Linked DNA regions of Homo sapiens. The protein of the gene in region 4 purifies or fractionates together with the protein of the main gene of each other region. This does not show direct contact. Each region holds a gene or a part of one and is shown on either strand. Other genes may lie near its edges. The genes, in order: EMB, STXBP4, ACACA and FNDC11.

Evidence for each region.
Region 1: the proteins of FNDC11 (region 4) and EMB purify together in Homo sapiens (affinity purification with mass spectrometry; 3 studies listed by BioGRID and IntAct, with this or other methods). This does not show direct contact.
Region 2: the proteins of FNDC11 (region 4) and STXBP4 purify together in Homo sapiens (affinity purification with mass spectrometry; 3 studies listed by BioGRID and IntAct, with this or other methods). This does not show direct contact.
Region 3: the proteins of FNDC11 (region 4) and ACACA purify together in Homo sapiens (affinity purification with mass spectrometry; 2 studies listed by BioGRID and IntAct, with this or other methods). This does not show direct contact.

The regions. Positions count from the first base shown.
Region 1 is NC_000005.10:50,431,150-50,438,349, forward strand, and holds part of EMB (embigin precursor), read right to left. Parts: intron 1-7,200. UniProt on the Homo sapiens protein: Plays a role in the outgrowth of motoneurons and in the formation of neuromuscular junctions.
Region 2 is NC_000017.11:55,076,678-55,083,877, forward strand, and holds part of STXBP4 (syntaxin-binding protein 4), read left to right. Parts: intron 1-1,400; coding exon 1,401-1,517; intron 1,518-2,008; coding exon 2,009-2,058; intron 2,059-4,372; coding exon 4,373-4,506; intron 4,507-4,512; exon of another isoform or gene 4,513-7,200. UniProt on the Homo sapiens protein: Plays a role in the translocation of transport vesicles from the cytoplasm to the plasma membrane. Inhibits the translocation of SLC2A4 from intracellular vesicles to the plasma membrane by STX4A binding and preventing the interaction between STX4A and VAMP2.
Region 3 is NC_000017.11:37,256,757-37,263,956, forward strand, and holds part of ACACA (acetyl-CoA carboxylase 1), read right to left. Parts: intron 7,139-7,200; coding exon 6,929-7,138; intron 2,775-6,928; coding exon 2,604-2,774; intron 1,618-2,603; coding exon 1,456-1,617; intron 1,111-1,455; coding exon 947-1,110; intron 1-946. UniProt on the Homo sapiens protein: Cytosolic enzyme that catalyzes the carboxylation of acetyl-CoA to malonyl-CoA, the first and rate-limiting step of de novo fatty acid biosynthesis.
Region 4 is NC_000020.11:63,549,458-63,557,280, forward strand, and holds FNDC11 (fibronectin type III domain-containing protein 11), read left to right. Parts: upstream 1-4,701; 5' UTR 4,702-4,749; exon of another isoform or gene 4,750-4,814; intron 4,815-4,885; exon of another isoform or gene 4,886-5,711; intron 5,712-5,717; exon of another isoform or gene 5,718-6,104; coding exon of another isoform or gene 6,105-6,109; exon of another isoform or gene 6,110-6,137; coding exon of another isoform or gene 6,138-6,206; coding exon 6,207-7,163; 3' UTR 7,164-7,238; downstream 7,239-7,823.

The DNA.
Region 1 (7,200 bases), on a different chromosome or scaffold from region 4:
ACGGAAAAAGTGCCAAGTGCAAAAGAACACGTGTAACTGCTGTGTGACTTTTGCCTTGGGAAAAGTCCCTTAAAGAGGCAATATACAGAAATGCCTTAAGTGGAAAAGCAGGGCAACCTACAGAAGGTATTAGGACAGTAAAAGAAGTTCTTTGTTTAGGCAAGATTTTTTTAACCAAAAAAGTGAGAATGTAAACCTTATTGCTTTCAGTTGGAGGACAGCTGGCAGGAGGCTGATTCAGCTAACATTGGGGTTTAAAGGAAATTGGCAGGAGACTCAGGCAGATGTGGTTTGAATACTTCCCTAAAAGGATTAGGCTGAGTCACAAAAAGAAGTATAAAATGGAGAGGAAGGAATTTGGGGTCTTAATCCAAATTCTGTCACTGACTGTTACTTAGGGTTTCCAAACGCCATATGCCCAGCTCAGTGCTTTGAAAATATGTCTCCACTGTAAACCTCATCTGATAGGGAAAAAAAATGAGGATCAGAAAAGTTGTATAAATATGAGTGATGATGCCAAGATCATAACATGCATTTCTCAAGTTATCAAACTCACCCTTTCTTAATCATTGCTGGAAAATTTCCATATAGCATTCTTTTACAGGTAGAGACAAAAATATCAACATGAAAGAGTAACATCAAATAGTTGCTCAAGAGATTAAAAGACTTTTTTCTCTCTTTGCAGGGCAGTTGAGGCATAAGACTACTGCATCAAAGAAGTGAGTAACATCTTAATTTTCACCTGTTATAATTTTCTGTGAAATAGCAAAATGGTCTCTACTTAAATGTTTTTCACATATTATATTTTAAAATGTGTTGCTAGAAGGGCATATAATTTATTCTATTAACACTTTCAAGTGAAATAAACATGCTATAATTCTACTTAAAGGTATTAAGGTAACATTTTCACATATTTCATTTTGAGGACTTCATTTAATTGAAGTAAGTTGGGAAGAAAAATAAGTAACACTAGAAAACTGCATTGGGTCTTAAGATTTGCTTTTTTAAATCAGGAAATAAATGCAACTACATCTCTGATTAAGAATAAACATTCTCTCTAAAGCCCCCAAAATCCCTTTATTATATGTTAAAATCTTGGAAGGGTCTGAACTTCATTAAGAAAAAAATGTAAGAAGCAACTATTAGAATAAATATTATTCTTTATCTTTCTCATCTCTATACTGATTGCTATCAACATGCAGTACTTAATTTTAACATTCTGATATACAGCATTATAAATGTGCAACCCAATTACAGAAACACTGATAGGAATGAATATTACATATTATTCATAAAATAGAGATTTGGAAATAAGAATATATTTCTTCATGGAAGCAATGTTATATATAACCATGTGATCCCATGCCAAATTGTAAAGGCCACTTAAGCCATGATATGGTTAAAACTTAGCTTTAAAATACCTAATTACTAAGTAAAATACTGATTATACACAACACATGGAGAATTATGGGTTTTAGGAGCAGAGTAGCCCTATCCCCTGTCCATAAATGCAGCAGAAAGAGGAAAAAGGAAATAAGGCATCTCTGAGTCCTGGAAATTATACTCCAGAGAGATTCATCCAAAAAAGAAGAAAAACAAGTAAAAAAAAAAAAAAAAAAAAGCTTGTCAAAAAATTCTAGTTATCAGGGCCAGGCGCGGTGGCTCACGCTTCTAATCTCAGCACTTTGGGAGGCTGAGGCAGGCAGATCATGAGGTCAGGAGTTTGAGACCAGCCTGGCCAGCATGGTGAAACCCCGTCTCTACTAAAAATACAAAAAATTAGCCAGGCATGGTGGCATGCACCTGTGGTCCCAGCAACTTGGGAGGCTGAGACAGGAGAATTGCTTGAACCCGGCAGTCGGAGGTTGCAGTGAGCTGAGATCGCATCACTGCACTCCAGCCTGGATGACAGAGTGAGACTCTGTCTCCAAAAAAAAAACAAAAAACTTATAGTAATCCTGATGGGAACATTTATAAGTCAGACTTTCTAAGTCAGAGACAGATAACACTCCACACAGAGAACTCTTGAACTCTTGATATTTTCTGCACAGTATGGAAGCTATTGGACAAGAAGCCTTTACAGACAAGGTTTTTTTTTTAAGGCCTACTGACAAGTACAATGCACACTTTTACCAGTCTTGTAAAACTATTTTAAAAACCAGATGGTATAGGAATGGAAATAAATAGATCTCTTTAAAAAAATATAATTTTGGCAATAATATACGTTTCAAAGGGCAATGTAAAAATTCTGTTTCAAATCACCTCTACATGGGTCACTAAGATACTTTAACAGTAACTTATGCCAAATAAAAACTTATTAAAAAATAAAACCCCGAAAGTTAATAACTAAGATTTCTATTCTTTCTAAAGACTGTAGATTTGTTAAATGTTTCAATTGTTAGTCTATTCGATAAGAGTTGGGATTTTGTTCAGTGGCTCTCAACTGAGGGTAGTTTTGCCCCGCAGGAGACATTTGGCAATGTCTGAAAGCATTTTGCTTGTCACAATTGGGGGAAGATTACTACATTTATTTAGTAGGTTATATAAGTTTTCATAACAAATTACCACAAATTAGGTGTCATAACAAATGACTACAAATTTGGTGGCAAAAACAACAAAAGTGTATTCTTTCACAGTTCTGGAGGCCAGGAGTCTGAAATCAAGGTGTTGGCAGGACCTTCCTCCTCTGAACTCTTGAGTGAAGAATCCTTCCTTGCCTCTGCCTAGCATCTGGGAGTTGCTGGCAACCTTGGCATTCCTTGGCTGTTGGTAGCTGCATTAGTCCAATATCTGCCTCTGTCTTTACATGATCATCCTCCCTCTGTATATGTCTCTGTCTCTGTTCAAATCTCCTTCTCCTTTTTTTATAAAGACCAGTCATTAGGTTTAGGGCTTACTCTAATTTAGTATGACCTTATTTTAGTTCATTACATCTGCAAAGACCCTACTCCCAAATAAGGTCACTTTCACAGGTACCCAAGATCAGGGATTAAACATATCTTTTTGGGGTGTACAATTCACCCACCGCATATGTAGAGGCCAGGGATACTGCTAAACATTTTAGGATAACAGCTTGCCACGACAAAGAATTATCCAGCGGAAAATGCCAACAGTACCAAAGTTGAAAACCTTGATTTTGAACAGATACATCAGCAATACTGATTCTTCAATGTGATCATTCTTAATAATCTTCCAATGGCCCTGTGGCCCTAAATTCCTGTTCTGCATAGTTTAGGTGCAGACATTTTTAAAGTGTGAACATTTTTTGCCACCCTTCTCTCCCAAGAACACCCTCCTGCCAGGGGCCTATTTTGAGGACTTTTTATGAAGAAAAACCACATGCTGGAGGGACGCTGAAATGCAAACCAGGAAAACAGTTATAGCTATTAGCTATCTCATTGCTTTTGGCTAAGTTACAAAAGCACTTTGGGCTTCAAGATCAATGAAACAAGGTATCTAAATTCCCTTTCAGGTTCTCAGAAGTATATAATTGCAAGGCTATTAAAAGCTTCTGGTTTGGGATTAGGGACACATTAGTACAATAACCTCAATAACTTCAAAAATGCCAGGAAAATGCTATTTTCAAAGAAAAGAATAACAACTCTTTAAAGGTAACATTCATAATTTCTATTCTAACATTATTTGAGATGTTCTATGTTTAAATAGTGGCAATTTTTATTAGGAGTAGAGTTTATTTTTAGCAAAGTGTTGTGAGGTTTGTTCTCCTACATCAGCATATATGTCATAAGTTATTAATTTCTAACGTTCACCTTATATTGTGCCATATGTGAGACCAGCTGTACAAAGTTAATGTGAAAAGATTACACTTTAGAACAAATAGCCTCAACACATGTGATTTGTTTCTGTTGGAGGGCATATACACCTTTGGAAAATGATACCTAAGAACATTAACAGATTTCTCAACTACTGTTTTAGTTTAATACCTCGGTAAACTGAAGCTTTCTCAGGTAAACTAATTATTTTTGTTTCTTTTCAAACAATCTCAAAGTAGCAGAAACATTTCAAGAACAGAACATTTTCCCCTCTGAACCATATGAGTAAGTTTCTGACCTGATGCTTCATGCCCCACTAAAACATTACCGTCTATTTCCTACAAAGGACATTCCCCATACCATCACAATACAACCATTAAAATCAAGAAATGAATATATATGAAGCACCATCTCATCCCCACACCCCATCTAAGTTTCAAAAAAAAGTCCCTATAACGCACTTGGTAGCAAAAGGTTCCAGCTCAGAATCACACATTGCCGTTGGCTATCACTTCTCTCTAATGTGGCTTCACTCTGGACCTGTGACAGTCTCTTCTGACTTTTCCATAACCTTGACACTTTTTAAAATTCCAAGACAGTTCTGCTCTAATATGATTATATTTGAGGTAGGCATCTTTGGCAGGAAGATCATAGAAGTGATGCTGTGCTCTTCTCACCAGATCGTCTCAGATGGCATACCATTTTTTTGGTCTTTGATCATTTGATCAAAGTGCTGTCTGCCAAGCTTCTCCACTATAAAGTTACTCTTTTTCCCTTGATATTAGTAAGCATATTCTGAAGAGTTACTTTGAATCTTTAGTACTTTGTACCCCATCAAAGTTTTCATTGATTTATTTTTTAATTTGCTTCAGTTGGTACTCATGAATCCCCATATTATTAAATGGGTTACAATCCACTAATATTATTATTTATTTTGATGCTCAATTTTGTCCCAGATTTGTCCAGTGGGAACCCCTTCATATTGGCTCCTGTATCTTTTTGACATGACTCATTATCCTTTGAGCACTCCATTGCTTTCTGGCACAAGATGTTCTAGGCTTATCTGCTACTTTCCCACACTAGCCCTGAAATCAGCCATTTCTCCAAGAAGCCTTGGTTACTATTAGTAAAGAATGGTATTTAGAACCCAAGATCTGGGTGCTAAGTATACTCATCACTACTGGAAATCACTGCTAAGAATACATGTGCACATATTCATATACACATACAACTTATAATGTATATCATATACACTTATGTATATGATATGCATGATACGTATTCATCATACATATATTTACACATATACTTGTTTAAAGCTATATACCTATATAGACTTAAGTAAAGAGATAGGGATTTAATGTCATGGATTCCCATGGATACTGCCAACTGCAATCCAACACCACAGGGTTCATTCTACTTTTTCTCTATCTTTATTTCATTCTTCTCTAGTGAAAAACCTAGATCCTATTATCTTTCCTAGATTTAATTATTTGATCCATCACCCTGTATACTGCTAAACTGTCATTGCTACTGCCACACCTGTCCCCACAGAGATGTCTCCTTACCCACTCAGGCTCCAACCTCCATCGCTGGTCTGACCCTCCTACATGCTTTCCTCCACATCTTGTTTGGGATCAAACATCACCCATCTGCTGCTCCTGCACAAAAGCCTTGTTAAACTTGCTCAACTCTGGGATCCTGTGTCAAGCTGCCCGCTGCAGGAGCAACCATTCACTGTGCTCAGGCCCTAATACTCCACACCAGGCTGCCCTCCTGCCTGATGCCATCCTTACCAGGGTCAGCCTCAGATATCCTGATCTGGTCCCCTTGGGCTCCACCCACTTAGTGAGGATGTCTCCTTGCTCTTCCCCACCAAATAACTATAGGACCTATGGAGGGAAAGATGAGAGGTAGGAGGGAAGGGAACGAGGGTGACAGAAGATGAGGAAGAGTCAGTTGCCCTAATTCTTAACAAATGTTTTCAACATATAATTTTTTTGTGATGATAAATTTAGGGTAAAAATGGTCATGCATCAGAAACATCACTATTAAAAGTAGGCTTAGGCTGGGCACCGTAGCTCTCGCCTATAATCCCAACACTTTGGGAGGCTGAGGCAGGAAGATCGCTTGAGCCTAGGAGTTCAAGGCCAGCCTAGGCAACCTAGTGAAACCCCATCTCTACAAAAAATACAAAAATTAGCCGGGTGTGGTGGCATATGCCTGTAGTCCCAGCCATGTGGGAGGCTGAAGTGGGAGGATCTCTTGAGCCCAGAAGGTCAAGGCTGCCCTGAGCCATGAGTGTGCCTCGGTACTCCAGCCTGAGTGACAGAGTGAGACCCTGTCTCAAAAATTAAATGAATGAATGAATGAATAAATAAATAAAAGTAGGCTTATGGTTCATCTGTTCCATTTAAACAGATTTTGGTCTTTGATCATTTGATCAAAGTGCTGTCTGCCAAGCTTCTCCACCATAAAGTTACTCTTTTTCCCTTGATATTAATGAGCACATTCTGAAGAGTTACTCTGAATCTTTAATACTTTGTACCCCATCAAACTTTTCATTGACTCCTTTTTAAATTTACATCAGTGGGTACTCATGAATTCCCATATTATTAAATGAGTTGCAATCCACTAATATCATTATTTATTTGATGCTCAATTTGTCCCAGATTTGTCCAGTGGGAACCCCTTTAAATGTCCTTAAAGGTAAAAACTGCCAGCATGTTCTACTGAGATATGGACTAACAATGTCAGACATATGTGGGTGCTTGAATAGTATTTGCTTCAAAAATATTTATTACTAGAAAGCTGCTGTGTTTGGGGTGAGAGGTTAGTAGGGAAGGGGGTTCATAAAGGGAATGCAAAAGCCACGTCCTCTGGAAGTTAAAAGGATCATTTTAAATGATTCTACTGCAAACATTTTTCAAAAGATAAACATGACCCATTTCTCCAATTTGTGTCATGTAATAGTAATAATAATGATATTTAAATACTCCCACTGATATATCCTTTACAAAGATATATTATATGTCTTATTTAATCAAAAAACCTTAAAACAGTCCCTGTACCTAATTTTATTCCAGGACTCAAACTGTGTCAGCATGTCATTCAGTGCAAATCAGACATTTAGATGCATAGGCTATGCTGTCAGTAGTTCTGAACTTTCATAGACATTTCCAATTAGCTCGGAGAGACAACTGGATATTGTGTTTAAGCACTGTGTTTAGGAAAACAGGCACTGGATGGACCAATGCCAAATTTCCTGCTCTGCTGCTTAACTAAGTATGTGTAATTACTTGGGCAATTAAGCAATTACTTGGGCAATTACATAAGCCAAGCCCCAATTTCTTCATCTTGAGCCCAGAAGGTCAAGGCTGCAGTGAGCCGTGAATGTGCCTCTGCCCTCCAGCCTGAGCGACAGAGT
Region 2 (7,200 bases), on a different chromosome or scaffold from region 4:
AAGAGCAATGTCTTCTGCCATTTCTGGAAATCACTAAGCTATTATCCTGAGCGATTTCTCTTTCATTCTTTGTATTTGTTCTTGTGTAATTCAGATTGGATGTGTGCTATAGCTTCTTCTGGCTGTTTTCTCTTTACCTTTTCTCCCCATTTGTATTTCAATTTTTGTCTTTCTGTTCCATTATGAGAAGTTTCTTTACCTCTGTTGTCAAGTTCACCCATTCTCTTTATAATTGTATCTAACTGGATGTCAAATCTATAAATAAAGTTTCTAATTTAGTTATGTTACATTTTTATTTTTGAGATGTATTTTTTATGTTATCTGGATCTATTTCAATAGTTTCTTGTGTATTATACTTTCAATTCCCTCTTATTTTTAAAAACATATTAAACATAATTGCCTTATATTTTGTATCTGCTCACTTAAATATCTGCTGTCTTTATAGATCTGATACTGTACTTTATTTCCTTCAGTTAGCTTTCATTCATAGAGCTTATTTTCTCATATGTTTAGTGATTTTTGTTTGTGTCTGTGAGATCATGTTCTATCAATGCATTATAAGTGGGAATTCTTTGAGCTCTGAGTTTTAGAAATATCTCTCCAGAGTTTTGAGTTTGCTTCTGCTAGCCTGGGACCAATTTAAAGTAAAATTTCAGCATATGGCTTTTTAGGCCACACAGATAATGTAAATTCTGGCCCCAAACCTGTGTGAATGGGGACTTTTGGTTAGGAATTATTCAGGAGAAACTTTTTTACTCAAGTCACCTGAGCCAACATCAAAACACTGTTTACCTCTGTGAAGTTTACTTCTTCCCAGTTCACCCATTGAGTTTCTTCTGTTTTCCATTTGTGACTGTTGAAACCCCAAACTGTAGGCCACCAGGGATCAGCATATACCCTCCGAACAAATAATGCTTCAGTGCTCTCTTACCCCAGTGGGCTCACTTGGCATCGCTGTTGCATGTCTCCATGGAATTCCTTTACTTCCTTGCTAGCTTTGTCTTACATCGTGTGTGTGTGTGTGTGTGTGTGTGTGTGTGTGTGTGTGTGTGTATCCAGCATTTTTAGTTATGTTAAATTAGTAGAGGTTTCTGTCAGCATCTGGTAAGACACATTGCAAAAACAAAACAAAACAAAACCATAAACTAATTTAAATGTATTTTACTATAAGAATCAATAAACTCATATACAACTTATCTCATAAAACTTGCAGTATCTCTGTGCAAATTAACTTTTAAATATGCAGTTAGTTACATGCCCCCCAAAATCAAAACATATGTACAGTAAGAGAAAAAGATAATTTGGTAATATTGAATATTAGTTCATAAAAACTGAAAATAGGGACCAGTAATGTAAAACTGAAGAAATGTGTAAATGCTCCTTTTGATATCTCTGTGCAGGAAAGTGTTCAGGATTTAAAAAAGAGAATCATGGTACTCGACTGCCAATTACGAAAATCAGAAATGGCTCGAAAAACTTTTGAGGCATCCACTGAAAAGCTTCTTCATTTTGTAGAGGTAAGTTTTTCTGTTCTATTACATTCATCTTTAAAAAATATATAGGCAACTGGCATATAGATAAATGTTACTGTATTTGGTACCTAGTGAAACATTCTCTAGTCTCAAAGCAGCAATGCTGGCTTATGGTCAGATTTAGAACTGCATACATGATGAAAAGACTGGCTAACATTTTATAGATTGTTTAGAGAAATAATTGAGACAAGGTGATGGGATTCCAAGTATATACTATTTTAATGAATACTTTACCAAAAATCCTGATAATGCATAAACATTATTTGATAACTACTTACCTTATAAAGAAATGTTTTCATAGCTGTTATATTTCTGAGTAAAACTGCATGTTAGTTCAATTGTTTGCACCCCCGCTACATAATAGAAGCATCAGTTTAATCCGTGGACAGAGGAGGTTATAAATATTAATGAAGAAAAGATATTTTTTAAAAACTGTCAAACTGATATATCTCCTTCACCATCTTGTTTGTTGCTAGGCTATTCAAGAAGTATTTTCTGATAATTCTACTCCTTTATCAAATTTAAGGTAAGAAAATTTAAGTGCTTTTTGCAGAATATGGGTAGTGATTAAATTCTTCATCTGGTCATTGTGACTCAAATACTAAAAATCTCTTAAATAGTCCTAAGGTGCTACATAACTCCCATTGGATGCCATCATATGGAAATAGATGCAAGGACATATTGTTTTGTGTCCCATCTCTGTTAAAGAAATTCCTGGAGGTATTTAGTCAATCATTGTAACCTTGTAATCTAAAATTATGGTAGAAACCACCTATCCTGTCTTTATCAAAAATTCTATAAAGATGAGATTAACTTAAAATTCTGTAATTGTCTTGCGTATGAATCAAAGTTACTGGTCACAGGTTCACTACTAAAAGTGTCTCAACCCAGCAGGTTAGTTGTTCTGGCAAACAGAATTTTGGAAAACATATTCATGCAATCATTTTCTTTCGTTTTCATCTTTCAGTAGCTATAAATAAAAGAAATATATTTGGAGAATATACCTCGATTGTCTCATTATTCATAATATGTTTTGGATTTAAAGTTTCTTACTAGAAGCTGGAAACATACTAATCAAATTTATTTATTTCAAACCACAAGTTTATGGTCATTTTGATACATGATGAAAGACATTTACAAAAGAAAGATTCTTGTTTATGCATTTCCAAAGTAATTTTTTTCTGCTCTCATAATAGCTGCCACTAGTCCTAGATACATCTTCTACTTCTAGCAATATACGCTTGCAGAAACAGGAAGACTCAATGAGGTTGGGTGTGATGGTGCATACCTGTAATCCCAGTATTTTGGGAGGCTGAGGCAGGGGGATCACTTGAGCCCAGGAGTTTGAGACAAGGAACATAGTGGCACACAGTGGGACCCTATCTCTACAAAAAAAAAAAAAAAAAGAAATAGCCAGATGGGATGGTGCATTCCTATATTCCCAGCTACTTGGGAGGTTGAGGCAGGAGGATTGCTGGAGCCCAGGAGCTCTAGGAGATTGAGGCTGCAATGAGCTGTGATCATACCACTGCCCTCCAGCCTGGATAACATAGTGATGCCCTGTCTCAAAAAGTAAATAAATACTCTACCCTTTACTGTGAAAACAGCAGCTTAATAAGTGAAGATATTTTTGGTGTCCACATAGCATTTTTTAATTTAGAAGAATATTTATAATTCACTTCTAAACTCAAGTAATGTTTTACTTCTTATGATGAAGGAACCTGACATAACTTCTTACTCTCCTTGCTGCTTATGATACAAGAAAACTCTGTGAATTTCATGATTATTACTCTCAGTAAGGATCTTAAAATAATCAGTAATCACATTTATTTCTTTATGGGCTAAGTGTGTCACCCACCCTCAGCTTTCCAAGGTCTTAGTTTTACCTTGACTAATAATTCAAAAGTTTTGTTTTAAAAATTAAGGTTAAAATGACTATTTAAAAGCCAGAGCCTGCCCTTGCCTTAAACTGCTTCATGGAAAAAAAGACAACTTTAAATAGCTACATCACGCAACATTTCATGGTGTCTTAGTAAATTAAACACTAGTAAAAACTGGTGCAGTCATTTCAATATAGCATATCCTCTACATGGATATTGGCCCTGGTCATTCAACACAGAATAAAGGCTATGTATTTGAATTTGAGAACTGATGCTTTTGTTACCCTTTGTGAATTAATATCATTATGCTTAGGAAGATGGAGTATAAATAATGATGATTTTGTCATCAGTTTAAATTTTTTTTTCAAGTAAGTTTTAGTGTAATTTTTTGAAGAAAACATTTAATTTTTAATTAGATCAGAATGCATTCATTTTAGGTGACATTTGCATTTTTTGAAAGTGATACAAATGCTCTAGGCTGTTTTTGATTCGAGGCAAAAAATGGAATAATTTAAGAGATAATTTCAGGAGCCAAATACATATATTGAATTTATATTTAATATTACTAGAAGTAATAATAAATGTATTTTAACAAATTCATGTTTATATGCTTAATTTGAATTTATACAGAACTAAATAAAATTATATCATGTTAGCAAAAGAGAAGCACTCACAAAATAAGCCCAACAAATGATTTAGGAGACAGGTCATCCTTCTATTACTTCTTTATCATACATGAAGTCAACCTAATTTTAAAATATTTCTACTTATTATGTCGTAAATAATTGAAAACAGAAATATTGTTTTATGTGAATTACTTCAATTTTGGTTATATGAAATAATTTCCTCAGAAATATAAATATTTTTGTACAAATCTATAACTGATACAACTTCAGATTTAGTAAAGATAGATGTTGTTTATTGTGTAGTAAGTTCAACTTTATTTTATTGCCTTCATAGTGAAAGAAGAGCTGTGTTAGCTTCTCAGACTTCCCTCACACCACTGGGAAGGAATGGACGTAGCATCCCAGCAACGCTGGCGCTTGAATCTAAGGAACTTGTTAAATCTGTTCGTGCCTTACTTGATATGGATTGTAAGTTTTCTGCATTTTTTCACTTTTTAAAAGTAATTTATTTAACAAAACAAATTGAAGTCAGACAGTTGAATTTCGTTATAGTGGCTTGCCTACAGCAAAGTTGATACCTAATCAATAAAAATATTAATGTACCAATCATAGGAGGAGAATATTTCCTTTATGTAAAGGCTCAGAATGAAGCTCTAATTAAGATATGCCTTTACATCCACTTCCACCCAAAGTTTCTTTGAAATGGCAGAATAAATGTAAAAATCAATCCGCAGCAGCACTGGAAACTGGAGGAGTGGAATCAGCATTGAGGAACTTGTTGTTAAATAATAATATCCCACAGGTGGAATAAGATTAAATGTACAGTCCAACTGAGCAAAAGACCCCAAAACACAAATATAACAGACAAAACTGCTGAAACGATGAGTTAAGCAGAACCATGGAAAAAACCCCAGGATCACAGACAGTGAAGACTGGGAACAGACTCTGGGGCAGTCAGCAGGGTAATTAATTAAATGGCTTGGAATAGCTGAACCAGTTCCCTAGTCTTCAGAGCTGCTGGCTCAGGCATATCCTCCTATGCTGGAGCCAGGAAAATACCTCTCTAAAGGAACTACATGAACTGTCACTAGATACCCCTAGAGTCATCATTGGGCTAGAAAGAGAAGTAAGGCAATGCTCTAAGTAACTTCCATCATCCCAACAGACAGAGAAATCCTTGGGGAAAACTTAAATGATTGGACATTTTCCTCTTTTTCTTTTTGTGTCTCTCCAGACACTTTTGTCTCTTTATGAATTTCAACTCCCTTTTTCTAACTACTTCTTACGTACTCTTTATTTTCCTGCAATGAAAATTATAATTTACCTAACTATACCTATAATTTATAAAAATCAACAATGTGCTAATGTACTGTAGAGGAGAAATAAGAGGGAGGTGATTTATAATAAAATTATATATATTTCAAAACATAAATGCTTTAGTACAGCTATACTAGGATATATAATGTAGTCATCAGATGCCTGCACCTAAACAGAGAATCACCACAAATGTGGCAACCATGAATGTAGACTGATACAGGAACATTGTGTTGTCATTTTAAATAGCATGAGCAGATTGTCATCAGTAATGTCCAAATGATTGTCCAAAATGGTGACCAATGGTAAAGTTCTGAAGAGAAGAAAGTAAAATCTTCCATTAATTTATATAGTAGGTACAAGCCTGGGAAATTTAATGTATATTAAAACTATGCAAAAATATTTGGAGTTTATCTAAAAATGGAATTTTGTTCCAGATTTTAGTAATTACAAACAGATTTTTTACCACCATAAATATCTAGTAGGACATTTAAACATTATACAGGACACAGAACAATTCTTTGTTGCACAGGACCGTTCAGTGTATCCAATAATGATAGGATGTTTAGCATTCCTAGTACCCTTTCACTAAATGCCAAAAATATCCCCAAACACTGTGACAATAGATAATGCCTCACAAATTTCCAAAAATGCCCCCTAGGTGCAATACCATTCTTAGTGGGAACCTCTATTGTTGATCCTTATTTAAAATATGAACCAACAACCAAGAATCACCTAATAATGGTCCAGGGGGAGAAGAACTGCATAACAGGGAGATTCTGAAGAGAGAGAAAAAAAGTCTTTAATTAAATAAAGATAATGTAATATTCTGAAGATAGCTATATTATATTCTTGAAATAAAATGAAGTTATTATCCTTAAAGAGAATCAATGACACATTGCATTCATAACACAAGAAGTAGTTGCATGCAAGAAAGCATTTTTTTTTTTAAGACATGGTCTTGCTTTATTACCCAGGCTGGAGTGCAGTGGCTCGATCTCAGCTCATTGCAACCTCCTCCTCCCCGATCCCCCATCACTCCCACCCCTAGGTTCAGGTGTCTCAGCCTCTCAGGTAGCTGAGACCACAGGTGTACATCACCATGCCTGGCATTTTTTTATTTTTAGTAGAGACAGGGTCTCTCCATGTTGCCCAGGCCTGGTCTTGAACTCCTGGACTGAAGCAATCCACCCACCTCAGCCTCACAAAGTGTTGGGATTAAAGCCATGAGCCACCACACCCGGCCAGAAAAGAGCTTTTAAAAAGTATTTTACATCTCCTTTTTCACTAAATGAAGATATTACTCAAAAAAGTTGTTTGATTATTAAATAATATAATTTATTTGAAGCACCTACCTATCACATTCCTAGCACAAAAAACATACTCGGGAATAAGTTTTGAATTGTGGTTGAACTATGTACATAGCACTTTTTTAAAAATAAGCTGTTCCATTTACCATTGCTGCAGAACAAATCAACCCAAAAGTTAATGGCTTAAACCAACAATTTAGTATTGTCTCTCATGGTCCTTTTGGTTAATTGCGCTCAGCTAGGCAGCTCATGTTAGAGCACTCTCACGTGGTTGCAGTCAGATGTCTGTTGGGGATGCAATATCTGATGACTCTACTGGGCTGGACATCTAAGATGGGAGCTCATCTGTGGCTATCAACTGGAACACCTACCTATATTTGGCCTCCCTAGCATGGTGACCTCAAGGTAGTTGAATTTCTTATGTGGTGGCTCAAGGCTCCAGCATAGGTGTTTCAGTGAACAAGACAAAAGCTGTATCACCTTTTATGACCCAGCCTCAGAAGTCACACAGCCTCGCTTTCACCATATTCTATTCATC
Region 3 (7,200 bases), on a different chromosome or scaffold from region 4:
GATAAAAATATAAAACTAATCAATAAGTGTTTATTAATACAAACAACCATATATTAGGATTAATTACTAATAAACAAATGCTATTTATTAGTAATTAATACTAATAAACACTTATTAATTACCTACTCCATGTACAGTACAAAGGTAAAGGGAATGGTATTAAATGTTTGATACAAGGCAATAAACCATTAAAAAACAGAAAAGAACTAGTTCAAGTTTCAATTTTAGATAGATATTCCAAAAGATCTAAGCTGTTAAAATTACCTCCTTCAGCCCTATGTTTTAGGCAAGCAAAAGTGCTGTTAATTTAATATTCATTGTTTATGATTAACAGAATATTATCTAACATTTATGATATAGCAGTTATATTTGCATAAGCTGTTATATACAGCATGCTAAGGTCTCTTGTATTAGCAATGTAGACAGTTTCTTTATGTCCTTTTCATAATATGAGCAGTATAATTTTATTATTTTAAATAACTATAAGAGTACATCATGGTGACTATGGCTCATAACAATAGATTGTGTACTTGAAAATTGCTAATAGATTTTAAGTCTTCTCACAAGAAAAAAATAAAATAAAAGTCTATGATTTATTTGATACCTAGTTCTTGGCCAAGAATCTACCTCCCCTCAATAACAATACTGTTCCTGTGGAAAAATAAGATACCTTTAAAGCAATCAATTTTATACATTTATCAAAAATATTTGAAAGGAAAAATACTTCAAAAGGCTCAGAACAACAAACAGAAAAACATCTGCCAAGCACTGCATAATTTAATACAACATGAATGCAAGTGTAATTAAAGATATTCAAAATTTCTTCAAAAAGGTTGTTCATATTATTACTTTGACAGCAGATGATTCCTATTCCCATGCTCACACCTTCACTTAAGATTAGCACAAATTTATTTTGTAAAATGCAATCAAATGCTATTATACTCACGAAATTGCCTCTTCTCTGTTTTCTCCCCAAGAAAAGCAGTGACCAAACTGAGAATCAGCAAATTCATGAAGTCCCCCTGCAGCAGCAACACTGAAATATCCCCAAACATTCTTATTGCTGCGGAAATTTAGCTCCTGAACTGTTCCTGAGCTGGGCTTAAAACCCTGTTAGAGAATAAAGAATGAGAGACCATATTATGTTTCGAAGGAAGAGAAGATTTATATATTCATTGTTTAAGTTCTCTGTTAATCACACACAGAAGCAGAGAAGACACACAAAAATGATAAAGGCCAAGACCCAGTGCCACAGACCCACTGAAGACTCTACAGTGACTTAAGTGGGATTAAGTAACCAATGAAGCAACAACCATTTACTTATCTGCTCTGAGAAACCTCTATGTTTCCCACTCCAGAGGAAGTCCCAAGATATTTCAGAAGTATACTTTCAGATACTATCTTAACATTAAAGTTCATTAAAAGGAGGTATAAACCTTTTAAGTGATGGGTTACCTCATCTGGATTTTCACTAGTGATCCGAGCAGCAATAACATGGCCCCTTGGACAAGGAACGTGTGCAGAATCTTCAAAATCAATGGGAGAATCACCCCAGGGAGATACCCCATACATCATACGGATATCCTTGATTCTATATAGAGGAATCCCCATGGCAATCTGAAAGGTAATAAAACACACATCTTTAATTTTTCAGTTACTTCCCTTAAAGTGTAGAGGCTATCAGATAACCTAAAATATTTTTATTTTTGGAGCCACTCCCTAAAACATTCTATTTTTATAACCTGTATTCTACAATCATCAACTCTAAGTTGCTTGAAATACAATATATCACTACAGATAAGTAGTTAGAATATTCTCCACTTCTAAAGAAGTCCCCACATTCCTAATGCAACAGACACCAGTTCCCCTGTTGTCATTTCTCCATCACGTAATAAGAATGAAAATATCCAACAGAGGAGTAAATGTTAATAGCCATCCAAAAACAGACAGCTAGAAAGTCTTAATTGTGTCATAATTATCTCTTCCATCCCTGCAAACCACTGGAGGAAGTAAGTAAATCTTTAGTCTTTAATAGGAACCCAGAAGGTGTTCTCGATGTGGGCAAATGTTAGATAAAAATAATATCAAGCCTTATCATTAACTATTACTGCTTTCCATAATATTTGTTTCCTGGGCTGAGAGAAGACAATAATATTGACAGCAAGCACTTTACAAATTATAAAAATATATGTGTGCTACCACACTCTTGTAAGGAAAAACTTCAACCACTAATCTCTGATGCAGAATTATTTCAATAAAGAACACTAGTAAAAAAACAAAAATGAGTAGGGAATAATTATAATACAAAGTTGTGAAGTTTACTATAGCTAAATAATTGAATAAAGCATACATTATTAACATTTATTTCTAAAACATGACACATTATATCAGATGTGTCTGGCTAGAAAAAATAACATTCCTATGTCTGTACTACATCAGGAAAACCAAACCACACATGCATAACACATACAGGGTGAAAGAGAAATGACCATTAGGTGTGACTCAGATAGGAGGTGCTTTTCTCTTATCACACACTGGTTAAACCCATTTTTCAGGCCTCTCTGACTTTTCTAGGCTCTGCAACCCAGATCAGGGAGACTCACCTGGAGCTGTGCTGCAGGGAGATTGACATCAGCCACCATCTCTGTACAAGGGTGCTCTACCTGCAGCCGAGGATTCAATTCCAGAAAGTAGAAGCTGCCATCCTGGCTGTACAGGTATTCCACAGTCCCAGCACTCACATAACCCACCATTTTGGCAAGTTTCACCGCACACTCAAAGAAGAGAGATAAGCAAACATAAGTATCTCACCTTATCCAACTGCTAGACCACTACAGCCTCTCACTGACTCAACTGTTCAGTGTGTATAAGAGCCATCAAAAGCTTTTAGCCACATGAGAGCACATTTCTGATTATTATACAATATCCCTGGACAAGGATGAAAAACTCAATGAAAAATCGGGAGAAAAGAGCATTTTTCACTTTGCATCAAAAGCAACCTCACCCCACCAGACATAAATGCATGCAGACAAAAAAACATGGGGACAGACTCTTGTCCAGTTTCCAGTATTTCCAATATGCTCCTCTTCTTCCTAGAAACATAGCTAACTAGTTAGAGACTAGATTTTTTTTTTTTTTTTTGAGACAGAGTCTCACTCTGTCTCCTGGGCTGGAGTCCAGTGGCACAATCTCGTGGCTCACTGCAAACTCTGCCTCCCGGGTTCAAGTGATTCTCCTGCCTCAGCCCCCCAAGTAGCTGAGATTACAGGCATGCGCCACCATGCCTGGCTAATTTTTGTATTTTTGGTAGAGATGGGGTTTCCCCATGTTGGCCAGCCTGGTCTCAAACTCCTGACCTCAAGTGATCTACTCGCCTTGGCCTACCAAAGTGCTGGGATTACAGGCGTGAGCCACCATGCCTGGCCTGGTTAGTGGCTAAGTTTTGACAAACAGGACACCAGCATTGGTAAGTGATATGCATAACTCCCAAGTCATATATATATATATATATATATATATATATATATATATATATATATATTTTTTTTTTTTTTTTTTTTGGAGATGGAGTCTCGCTTTGTCACCCACCCAGGATGGAGCACAGTGGCGCAATCTCGGCTCACTGTAACCTCCGCCTCTCGGATTCAAGTGATTCTCCTACCTCAGCCTCCTGAGTAGCTGGGATCACAGGCACATGCCACCATGTCAGGCTAATTTTTATATCTTTAGTAGAGATGGGTTTTCATCATGTTGGCCAGGCTGGTCTCGAACTCTTGATCTCAGGTGATCCGCCCACCTCAGCCTCCTAAAGTGCTGGGATTATAGGCGTGAGCCACAGCACCCAGCCCTAAGTCATATTTTGAAAAGGAAATGTCTCATTCTCTATTCCTGGCTTTTTCCTTCTTATTCATTGGAACATAGTCATGATAGTATAAGCCAACTTCAATCATGCAAATGAGAACACACTAAGAACACCAAGAAAAGAAAGGAAAAGAAAAGAAAGAAAAAGAAAAGAAAGAATGAACCTGAATCCCAAGATGGTCTCGTGGAATAAAACACTTCCACCAGCCCTGAAAAGCTCACCTCAGACTAGGATGGGAGAGAAAAATAAACTTCTATTTTTGGGGGGGTCCGCTGTGTTTTTTGGACCTTTTTGTTATAGCAGTTTAACCTGTATCCTAATCGATACAGGAATTATTAAGTGCAGGTAGAATGTTGCTGTTTAAAAATATTAAAATATGAGATGCTAGCTTAGCAAAAGGGTAGTGGGTAGCAGAGAAACAGATACTGCAGGCTGGAAAGGTGATAATCTCCTTGTTGGGATAACACAACATTTGGTAAACTGTTTCCTACAATAACTTGGGATACTGACCACACACCAACTAAACCTTAAAAAAGATGGTCTGAAAGGGTCAGAGTGTCGAAAAAGCCAACTTCTTTTGTATCCCCCCAAACAGAAAATGAGATTATCACCCTGAAGCAACTCAGTGTCAAAGATCAAACGTGCTGCTTTAGTTTCAGCTGGCCCCAAGATAGCCAATATTAAATCAAGGCAAGAGAGATAGGCTAAGCACAGAAGCCAGTAAATAATAGAAGAAAAGTTTCTATATCTAGAAGAAATCTATGAGTATGATTAATCCAACCCAAAGCTGATTGCAAGCAAATAGCCCAGAAGCTTAGTTAAGTATTTGAAGGAATTGTATTTCTAAACAAACCACAAACCTGGCCTTCAAAAGCCTGCGACTGATGATTGGGATATTTGTGCCCTCAATCCTGCACCAGCAGGAAGTGGGTTGTGAAAGTTCTGCCAAAGAAGGCATAGTCTCCAAAGCCCAACTCACAGAGAAAACTGAATGAGGAAGAACTTCCCAGAAAACAATGTCAGGTGTCTTGAAGGACAATGAACAAGGGATTTACTCCCTTATTGCACTTCTCTGGAGTGTGCAGTAGCAGAACCAGGGACAGCCAGGTCTAACTGAGGTAGTATTCTATTATATAGCAGGGAATCATTGCAATTCCTACCTAAAAAGGAGGATTTGATAACTGCTATGGACCAACGATTGCTATGTATTTTTCATTTTTCCAAATGAGAGTTATCCTGTTCCTATTCCATCATTGTATATGGGTGTATGGTGAAGGCAGGGGATATAATACTGGGTAAATAACTTGTATTTTGAGTCACTGGCCCATGAAAAGCCACAATACATATCTAATGGAGAAGAATATACATCATATAGAGATCCGGAATCACCTCCAGTAATAACCCATCCAGTTACTAGTAACTGGATGGGGCTTCAGGTTGTCTTCCTTGGACAAAGGCTATGTGTGCTCTGAAAGTAGGAAAAAGGATAAAGGGATAATAGGTAGCCAGAGGAACAGACTGAGGCACAGATTATGAAATGCCCTCCAGTGACTTTTCTCTACTTCATCATTTTAGGAATAAAATCGAAATTTTTGCTGAGCACATGGTCACCCAGTTAGTGATCACAATTCCTAACATCCTTTGTGCTAGGTATAATTGTGTAACTGAATTTTGTCCAGTGGAATGTGAGCAGAAGTGATGTATGTGACTTCAAGATCATGCTTCCATATGCTTGCCCTCCACATCCCCTGTCTCTTCCTCCCACAGGCCACAATGTGAACATAATCTTGTGTGAGTTAGCTTAATCATGAAGATGACAATGTCCAAGAGCAAAGTTTGGCAAACTTTTTTGGTAAAGAGCCAGATAGTAATTATTTTCAATTTTGTGGGCCATATAGCCTCTGTCACAACTATTCAATTCTACCATTGTAGTGATAAAGCAGCCATAAATAACACATAAATAAATAAGCATCATTGTGTTCCAACAAAATTTTATTTACAAAAACAGGCAACAGGTGAGCAATAAACCTGTTTCTGGTAACAGCTCATCTCTGAACTATGATGAAAGAGAAATAGAAACTTACACCTTGTTTAAGCCACCGTATTTTGCTTATTTATTTATTTGTTTTGAGATGGGGTCTTGCTCTGTCACCCAGGTTGGAGTGCAGTAGCATGATCAAGGCTCACTGCAGCTTTGACCTCCCAGTGTCAAGTGATCCTCCCACCTCAGCCTCCCAAGCAGCTGAGAGTACAGACGTGTGCCATGACACTCAGCTAATTTTTGTATTTTTAGTAGAGATAGGGTTTCACCATATTGCCCAGGCCGGTCTCGAATTCCAGGGCTCAAGTGATCTGTCCGCCTTAGCCTCCCAAAGTGCTAGGATTACAGGCAAGAGCCACCATGCCCGGCCAAGCCACTGTATTTTGAAGGCATCTTTATTACAGCAGTTCAAGAGTACATCCTAATATATACACAACATAGGAAATAGACCTCTAACACACATGAAATATATTTTGAAGAATCTATTTTGATGTAGAGACTGGGTTAGGACTCCAGAAAAGACTATGTTCAGGCCTCTAAACTATAGTTATTCCGAAGGCATCGCTCATGACTTTGAGAAACTACTTTCTATACAAAAAGATAGAATGTGTGAACTCTGAAGATATTTAGAGGACTTTCCAAAAACGATAATAGAGTTGATTAAATTCAGCTGAAGACTTGATGATACTCAACCCAGCAAATAAAACTACCTGATTATGAGCCTCTTAAAAAAATCAATCATAAGATTAAAAATTCCAAAACATTTCTCTTCTTTATCCCTGTATCCTGAAATGGTACGCTGATTTTTTTTAGAAAGCGTTAACTACTTTTAGAAGCTTGACATGTTCCTTGACAATTCTCTTAGTGGGAGAACAGTAGAATTTTTTTTCTCTAAGAAAAGGATATAATTTTATTAATTATTCAGAATCGTTGCTTAAAATGCCATTGTTCTCAGATTGGTACATGAACTGAATGAAAAATGTTCTATGTAAGAAAACATAAAGTAAGCCTTTTAATATATGTACCTGTTCCATGTGTTCAAATACTGCTGGAGTAGCAATAGTAGCAGGTGCTTCTTCAATAATCTTCTGATGCCTGCGTTGTACAGAGCAATCACGACCAAACAAAGAGATAGCATTGCCATATTGGTCCGCTAAGATCTGCACCTCCAGATGACGAGATTGTTTGGCTAGTCTCATCACAAATATGGGAGATCCAGGAACTTCAGCTTGAACCTGTATTAGAAAAGGGGGAAAAAAAAAACCAATTCTTAAATTTTAAACTTTTTATCTATCTT
Region 4 (7,823 bases):
CCGGACTACAGGTGTGCGCCACCATGCCCAGATAAATTTTTTATTATTTGTAGAGATGGGCTCTCACTATGTTGCCCAGGCCGGTTTTGAACTCTTGGCCTCAAGCGATCCTCCTGCCTCCCAAAGTGCTGGGACTACAGGTGTGGCTACCAGCTCTCCCAAATCCTCCCTAGGACGTGACTCTTCCCCGCTAGAACGCCAAGGCCGCAGAGCCCCAGGGAGGCCTCCTCAGGCCATGGAAAGCTCCTGTGCCCACCACACCAGGGTCAGATGTTCAGGGCACTGAATGCAGATTCCTCCCAGACACTCCCTGCCCCTTAGAGCCACGGGATCATGGCACAGGACTCAGCACATTCCATGCCCAGCTGGAACCAGAGGCAGGCCTGGCCATCAGGGTTAGGGCCCCATTGGGCCTCTGCCCCGGCGTGTCTCACCCCCACCGCCCCACCTGCCCACAGATCAGCTCCCCACGTCTGCCCCATCTTCCCCCTCCTTGCACCTGCTGCCCTTGCACCGCACACATGCCAGGGTGAGTGTGGTCGGCAGGCAGCCGAGGCCGGCTTTATCCAGCTCCTCCCCGGTGGTCCTCAGAATCCCCGGCCCCGCATGCCCAGCTGCCCTGTCCCGCTGCCCTCCAAGTTGTGCCCGCCCGTCCACCCCTTCCTCACCTCACCCACCAGGCGCAACACAGCCCAGCATAGGGCCCCTGCCAGGTGTCGGTGTCAGCAGCCCCTTCCCTGCCTGCTGTGCCCCCCCCACATGACCTCACCTCCTCCCTCAGCCCTAACCGGGTGGGTGGCACAGAGGGGAGTGAGGAAAGGGGCCTGGGTACAGGATCAGTCTGGACGGGGTCAGGAGTCTGGGGCTTGGCCGGGTGAGGCGGCTCACTCCTGTAATACCAGCATCTGGGGAGGCCAAGCAGGAGGATCGCTTAAGCCCAAGGGTTCAAGACCAGCCTGGGCAACATAGTGAGACCCCCATCTCTATTTTTTTAAAAAAAGAAAAGGCTAGGCACGGTGGCTGACACCAGTAATCCCAGCACTTTGGGAGGCCAAGGCGGGTGCATCACCTGAGGTCAGGAGTTCAAGACCAGCCTGGGCAACATGGTGAAACCCCGTCTCCACTAAAATACAAAAGTTAGTCAGGCATGATGGCGGGCACCTGTAATCCCAGCTACTCGGGAGGCTGAGACGGGAGAATCACTTGAATCTGGGAGACAGTGGTTGCAGTGAGCTGAGATCGTCGCGCCACCGTACTCCAGCCTGGGCGGCTGAGCAAGACTCCATCTCAAAAAAATAAAAATGACCAGGGCTGGAATCCTGCTGTCAGACTCACTGTCCACATGACCTTGGGCATACAGTGCTGAACCTCCCTGTGCCTCAGTTTCCCCATCTGTAAGAGCACTGAGCTTACAATGGCAGTGAGGACACAGACCAGGGGGATGGGGTGCAGGGCCCTTCCTGGTGTTCAGATGGAGGCTTGTGGCAGGAGCTCTGCCACATCAGGCCACCCCCCATCCGGGTTTATGTGTCTGGAGGGCACAGCTCTGAGGGTCTCAGTGGTCAGCGTGCATTCTCTCCCCCAAGACTGGCCCCACTACCCCCAGGCTTCACCATCCTCAGGGCCCAGGGAAGAGAGCTTGTCCCCACCAGGGACAACAGATCCAAAGTGTTCACTGCCCGTGCCCTGGTGGCCACAAACAGGGTTGAGCAAGACTGAGCACAAACTGGCCCCTGGTGCCCAGCAGTGAACAGGAGTGACTGTTGACCCTGCACAGAGGGGACTATGCTGAGCGCAAGAAGCCAGTCCCAAGGCTGCATACTGAAAGCCTGCACTGATAGGACATTCTTGAAATGACCAGACAGAGCCGGAGAGATGAGTGGTTGCAGGGCTAGGGAGAGGTGGGAGGGAGCAGCGTGGCTGTAAAGAACATGTCAGGGTCCCGTGGGGGTGGCACTGCCTTGCGTCTGTATCGACGTCAAGGTCCTGGCGTGATTCTGCACTGCAGTCCTGCAAGATGCTACCACTGGGGATGCTGGATAGAGGGTAACGGGACCTCTGTGTTACTTCTTACAACTGCAGATGAATCTATACTTATCTTAAAAGTAAAAGTTTAACTTTATTATTATTATTATTATTTTCGAGACAGGCCTCTGTCTTATTGCACCCAGGCTGGAGTGCAGTGGCACAATCTCGGCTCACTGCAACCTCCACCTCCTGGGTTCAAGCGATTCTCCTGCCTCAGCCTCCTGAGTAGCTGGGACTACAGGCGCCCACCACCACGTCCAGCTAATTTTTTTTTTTTTTTTGAGACAGAGTCTCGCTCTGTCGCCCAGGCTGGAGTGCAGTGGCGTGATCTCGGCTCACTGCAAGCTCCACCTTCCAGGTTCACGCCATTCTCCTGCCTCAGTCTCCCGAGTAGCTGGGACTACAGGCGCCTGCCACCACTCCCAGCTAGTGTTTTGTATTTTTAGTAGAGACGGGGTTTCACCATGGTCTCGATCACGTCCAGCTAATTTTTGTATTGTTAGTAGAGACTGGGTCTTACTATGTTGGCCAGGCTGGTCTTGAACTCCTGACCTCAGGTGATCTGCTTGCCTCAGCCTCCCGAAGTGCTGGGATTATAGGCGTGAGCCACTGCGCCCAGCCATTATTATTCTTTTTAGAGACACAGGGTCTCCCTCTGTCACCCAGGCTGGAGTGCAGTGGCACCATCTTGGCTCACTGCAGCCTCATCCTCCCAGGCTCAGGTGATCCTCCGGCCTCAGCTTTCCAAGTAGCTGAGACCACAGGTGCACACCACCACACCCAGCTAATTTTTCAAATTATTTGTAGAGACAGGGGTCTCCCTGTGTTGCCGAGGCTGGTCTCAAACTTCTGGCCTCAAGGGATCCTCTCACCTTGGCCTCTCAAAGTGCTGAGGTTATGGGCCTGCGCCACCGAGCCTGGCCAAAAGTTTAACTTTAAAAAATTAGATTAGAAATCAGAAATTGAAAGAAAGGGGGTAGGGTGGAGCCCAGGAGAGGGGAGACATCCAGGACCTGCCTGGCCCCAAAAGAGAAGGGGAGGCTGCTCTGCCCCCACCCCGCTTCTCCGTCAGTGGGCTGCAGGGCCGGGGGTAAGGGGTCTAACTCCTACTGCTTCCCAACCCTCCGCGTCAGACAGCACCCCCTTCTCCAAACAACCCCGGCTTTGTCCCCTGGAGCCCTAAATAACAATAACAATAGCTGGCATTTATTGAGTTCCAGCCCAGGCAGGGAGGGCAGGGCAGAAACAGCACCCAACAGGACTGGGTGCAAGGCTCACACCTGTAATCCGGAAGGATCAGAAAGACCCAGGTGGGAGGATCACTTGAGCCCCGGGGGTGAAGACTGCCGCATGGGTGACAGAGCAAGACGCTATCTCAAAAAAAAAACCACCCACATCCACCCACTTCCTGCCAGGCCTAACCCCTGGGGCCTCCATGCACCAAGGGAAAGCTCTTCCAGGGTGGGGTCACCGGGAGGAGGGGGGAGGCTCAAGTTACAGAACAGCCTGGTAGGGGCTCAAAGACGCCCATCCTGGAAGAGGCCCCAGCACTGACCTCCGTGGGGGTGGAGATGAGGAGGATGGAAAGGGTGTCTTCCTCCAGCATCTTCCTGAAGGTGAAGGAGGGGCACCTTGGGGTGTCTAAGATTGTGACCCCAGGAGACCCCCAGCTAGCTGGGGTGTGCTGTGGGGGAACGGGGGGATCCCAGAGGCCCTGAGCCCAACTGAACAGATACAGACGGGACCAGATGGCCTCAGAGCTCCCCTGCGGGGCTCCCTGGAGCTATGGAGACCCCATTTATCCAGAGTCAGGTCGGTGCCTGAGCTTGGGCAGCCCCAGGTGGAAGGAGCCCATGGTGGGAGGAGCCTGTAGTGGGAGGAGCCTGTAGTGGGAGGAGCCTATGATGGGAGGGGCCGTGGTGGGGGGAGCCCGCGGTGGGAGGAGCCTGCGCTGGGAGGAGCCTGTGGTGGGAAGACCCTGTGGTGGGAGGGGCCGTAGTAGGGGAGCCCGCGGTGGGAGGAGCCTGCTCTGGGAGGAGCCTGTGGTGGGAGGGGCCGTGGTGGGGGGAGCCCGCGGTGGGAGGAGCCTATGATGGGAGGGGCCGTTGCGGGGGAGGGGGGAGCCCATGGTGGGAGGAGCCTGTGGTTGAGGAGCCTGCGGTGGGGGGAGCCTGCGGTGGGAGGAGCCTGTAATGGGTGGCATCTGTAATGGGCGGGGCCTTGCTGGGCAGAGCCCGCGGCGGGGGAAGCCGCCCCTCTCCTCTGTCCAGGCGCTGGGTGGTCCATCCGCCTGGTCACCGGCCACTGCCTCTCTCCCAAATTCCTCCGAGGGATTCCCGAGGAGTGCGCTCGGACTGGGGGGTTGAGCAGGAACTCCCTCCCAGTCACCCGAGGCTCCTGCGCCCCGCCCGAAGCCGGGGGTGCGTGGGGAGTGGTGCGCCCGCGGAAGGGCTCCGGGACGGGAACCCCCCTTGGAGCCTGGCTCTTGGACCAGCCACCCGCCGTGGCCCCTCAGTCGGGGACGCGGGCCCCCAGAAGTCTGGGGCTCTCCAGGAAGCGAAGCGGATGGAAGATTACTCGGCTCGGGGTCCCGGGTCCCCACCCCCGCCCCGCCCCCGGGCCGCAGCGTCACAAAGGCCGCTGGTCCCCAGGGCAACCCGCGGAGTGCGGAGGGAGGCTGGGCTCTGGGAAGTCCGCGCGCGGCTCCGCTTCAGAGGCAGGGCAAGTGGGCGCGGTCCTGGGGCGGCGGCGGGGGCCGGGAGAGGAGGGCTGGGGGTCTCGAGAAGGTAAGGGGCAGGCAGAGCGGCCGGGGAGGTGGGCCCGGGCCAGGGGAGCCAAGGGGAGTGTGGTGGAGGGGGTAGAGTGCGGGCACCTGGTGGTCTCAGGGAAGCGGGCCTGGGACCGGGGCGTGTAGGAAGCAGCGAGGGGCTCAGAACCACCTTTCCGGGTTCACGACCAGCCTCTCTGGGTGTTCCACCTGGGCAGCTGCTGGAGACTAGAAAACATCCCTCACACGTCACAGAGGCACGGTTTCCCTCCAGCGGTGAAATCCGCCCCAGCCTCCAGCAAGAGCAGGGCTTAGGCCTGGGGTCCTGGGGTCCTGCTCTCAGCTGGCACCTCACCCCAGACACACTCCCTGCTGCCCCCAGGGGCCTGTTCTCGAGGGATTCCCGAGGAGTGCGCTCGTGAAGTCATATCTGCCTCACGCCCAAAAGGGCAACCCTTCCCGGGCAGATATGACTTCACCACGTACCTGTGTGGCCCTGGGGAACTCAGCAACTGCTTAGCTCTCATTTGTGGGTCGTCCAAGGCCCAAGTGGCTGTGACAACCTGAGATCTCCAGGGTTGCTGGGAGCCGGGGCAGCAACCAGGGGTGCGGCTTGCTCTCCAGGGAGCTGCGGCAGAGCCTGGGGCCACAGCTGCACTCAGCCGGTGCACCCACGGACAGAGGGTCAGACTCGGCTCAGCACTGGGCTCAAGCCCTGGATGAGAACAAGAACCAAGCTTCTTAGCCTCAGGCTCCATCTGGGAAATGGAGTGTCACTTGTGGAGTCCATGAGCTCACCAGGGACAGGATCCCGGGTCCACAGCGAGGGCCCACAGCGTGGGAGGAGGGCTGCTCCTCCGGGCCCAGGCCTGGGCGCCCTCCTCCCATGCTGACCAGCCAGCTGGCCTCGTCTTTGGTGAGGCCTGTCTCTGTGCCCTACAACTGCGGTGAGGCGTGGAGCGTCCCCAGGGAGAACCGGAGCGGGAGGATGGCCCGCGAATGTCCCCGAGGGGGATCCTGTGCTGCTTAGGACCACGCCGTCCCCTCTCCACGGCCCCGAGGGGTGCCAGCAACCCCTTTCAGCAGCAGGGTTAGGAACTGGGGCCCTTGCAAGGCCACAGGTCAGGCGGTTCTGGCCAGAAGTCCGCAGTCCTAGTTCTTCCCTGTCCTGTCCCACAGGCCACTGGTTGTCAGTAGAGGTTTTTGCCCCTCAGTATAAACTGTGTCCAGATCTGTAGGCTGCCCATCCAGCCCTCCAGGCAGCCTCTTCCCATCGAGTTGTGCCCCCGAAGAAGGACAGAGGTCCAGCATGGGGTCAGTGGGCTGAATCCATCCCCCGAACATGCCACAGCCCAGGGGAGGCCAGCCTGCCTGGCAGCTGACACCCAGCCCTCCCCCCAGCTCCCGGATAATGAGCACCCATGTGGCAGGCCTGGGCCTGGACAAGATGAAGCTGGGCAATCCCCAGTCCTTCCTGGACCAGGAGGAGGCAGATGACCAGCAGCTGCTGGAACCAGAGGCGTGGAAGACCTACACCGAGCGCCGCAATGCCCTGCGTGAGTTCCTGACCTCGGACCTGAGTCCGCACCTGCTCAAGCGCCACCACGCCCGCATGCAGCTGCTGCGTAAGTGCTCCTACTACATCGAGGTCCTGCCCAAGCACCTGGCCCTGGGCGACCAGAACCCGCTGGTGCTGCCTAGCGCCTTGTTCCAGCTCATCGACCCCTGGAAGTTCCAGCGCATGAAGAAGGTGGGCACAGCTCAGACCAAGATCCAGCTCCTGCTGCTCGGGGACCTGTTGGAACAGCTCGACCATGGCCGTGCTGAGCTGGATGCCCTGCTCCGGTCGCCAGACCCACGGCCCTTCCTGGCCGACTGGGCGCTGGTGGAGCGGCGGCTGGCGGACGTGTCGGCCGTCATGGACAGCTTCCTGACCATGATGGTGCCGGGGCGGCTACACGTCAAGCACCGCCTGGTGTCTGATGTCAGTGCCACCAAGATCCCGCACATCTGGCTCATGCTGAGCACCAAGATGCCTGTCGTGTTTGACCGAAAGGCGTCGGCGGCTCACCAGGACTGGGCCCGGCTGCGCTGGTTCGTCACCATCCAGCCAGCCACATCGGAGCAGTATGAGTTGCGCTTCAGGCTGCTGGACCCGCGGACACAGCAGGAGTGCGCCCAGTGTGGCGTCATCCCCGTGGCTGCCTGCACCTTCGACGTCCGAAACCTGCTGCCCAACCGATCCTATAAGTTCACCATCAAGAGGGCCGAGACCTCCACGCTGGTGTACGAGCCCTGGAGGGACAGCCTCACCCTGCACACCAAGCCGGAGCCCCTGGAGGGGCCCGCCCTCAGCCACTCTGTCTGAGAGATGATTTTCTAATATTTATCCACTAATAAAGAAGAGTGTAAATGCACATATGGAATTAAAGAAGCAAACCTATTTATGTTTTAAAGGCAGCAGCCACCAGTGTTTTTCCTGGCTCAAAACATGCCAAGCCCCAGGCCTTCTGCTCCTGCTCTTTCCCAGGGGGAGCCACAGGCCGGACCTCCCAAGACAGCTGAGCCTGGAGCAAGAAGTACCAGCCCCTGACACCTACGGGTCCAACGACGACGACAAAAGCTGCTCCACGGGGCCTCTGCGGTCCTAGCCCCCGCCCCTCCTCACCACCCCCATCACCGTGACCGGGCTCCGGCCTTCCTTACCCACCTCCCTGGCTTGTGGGGCTCCCTCAGGGAATGACACTCCTAGGCCGTGATGCCTCCCACCATCCCCTGCCCAGCCTCGAGTGCTCATCAGCACGCCCGCCCGAGGAGGCAGCAGCACCACCGGGGATCCCTGGCTGTGAGCAGCTCAGCCGTGCCCCTCCATGCCCCGCCCCACCTTTTGTTCCTCAAGGGCCTTCCCGGCCCTGAGCTCCCTCTCTCCTCCAGGATCAGCTGCTTTTGCTAGGCGTCCAGCCCCTGCGTCCCCCCACCGCTCACCTTCAGGGCCGCAGCTGCCCCTTCCTCCCAGAAGCCTTCCCTG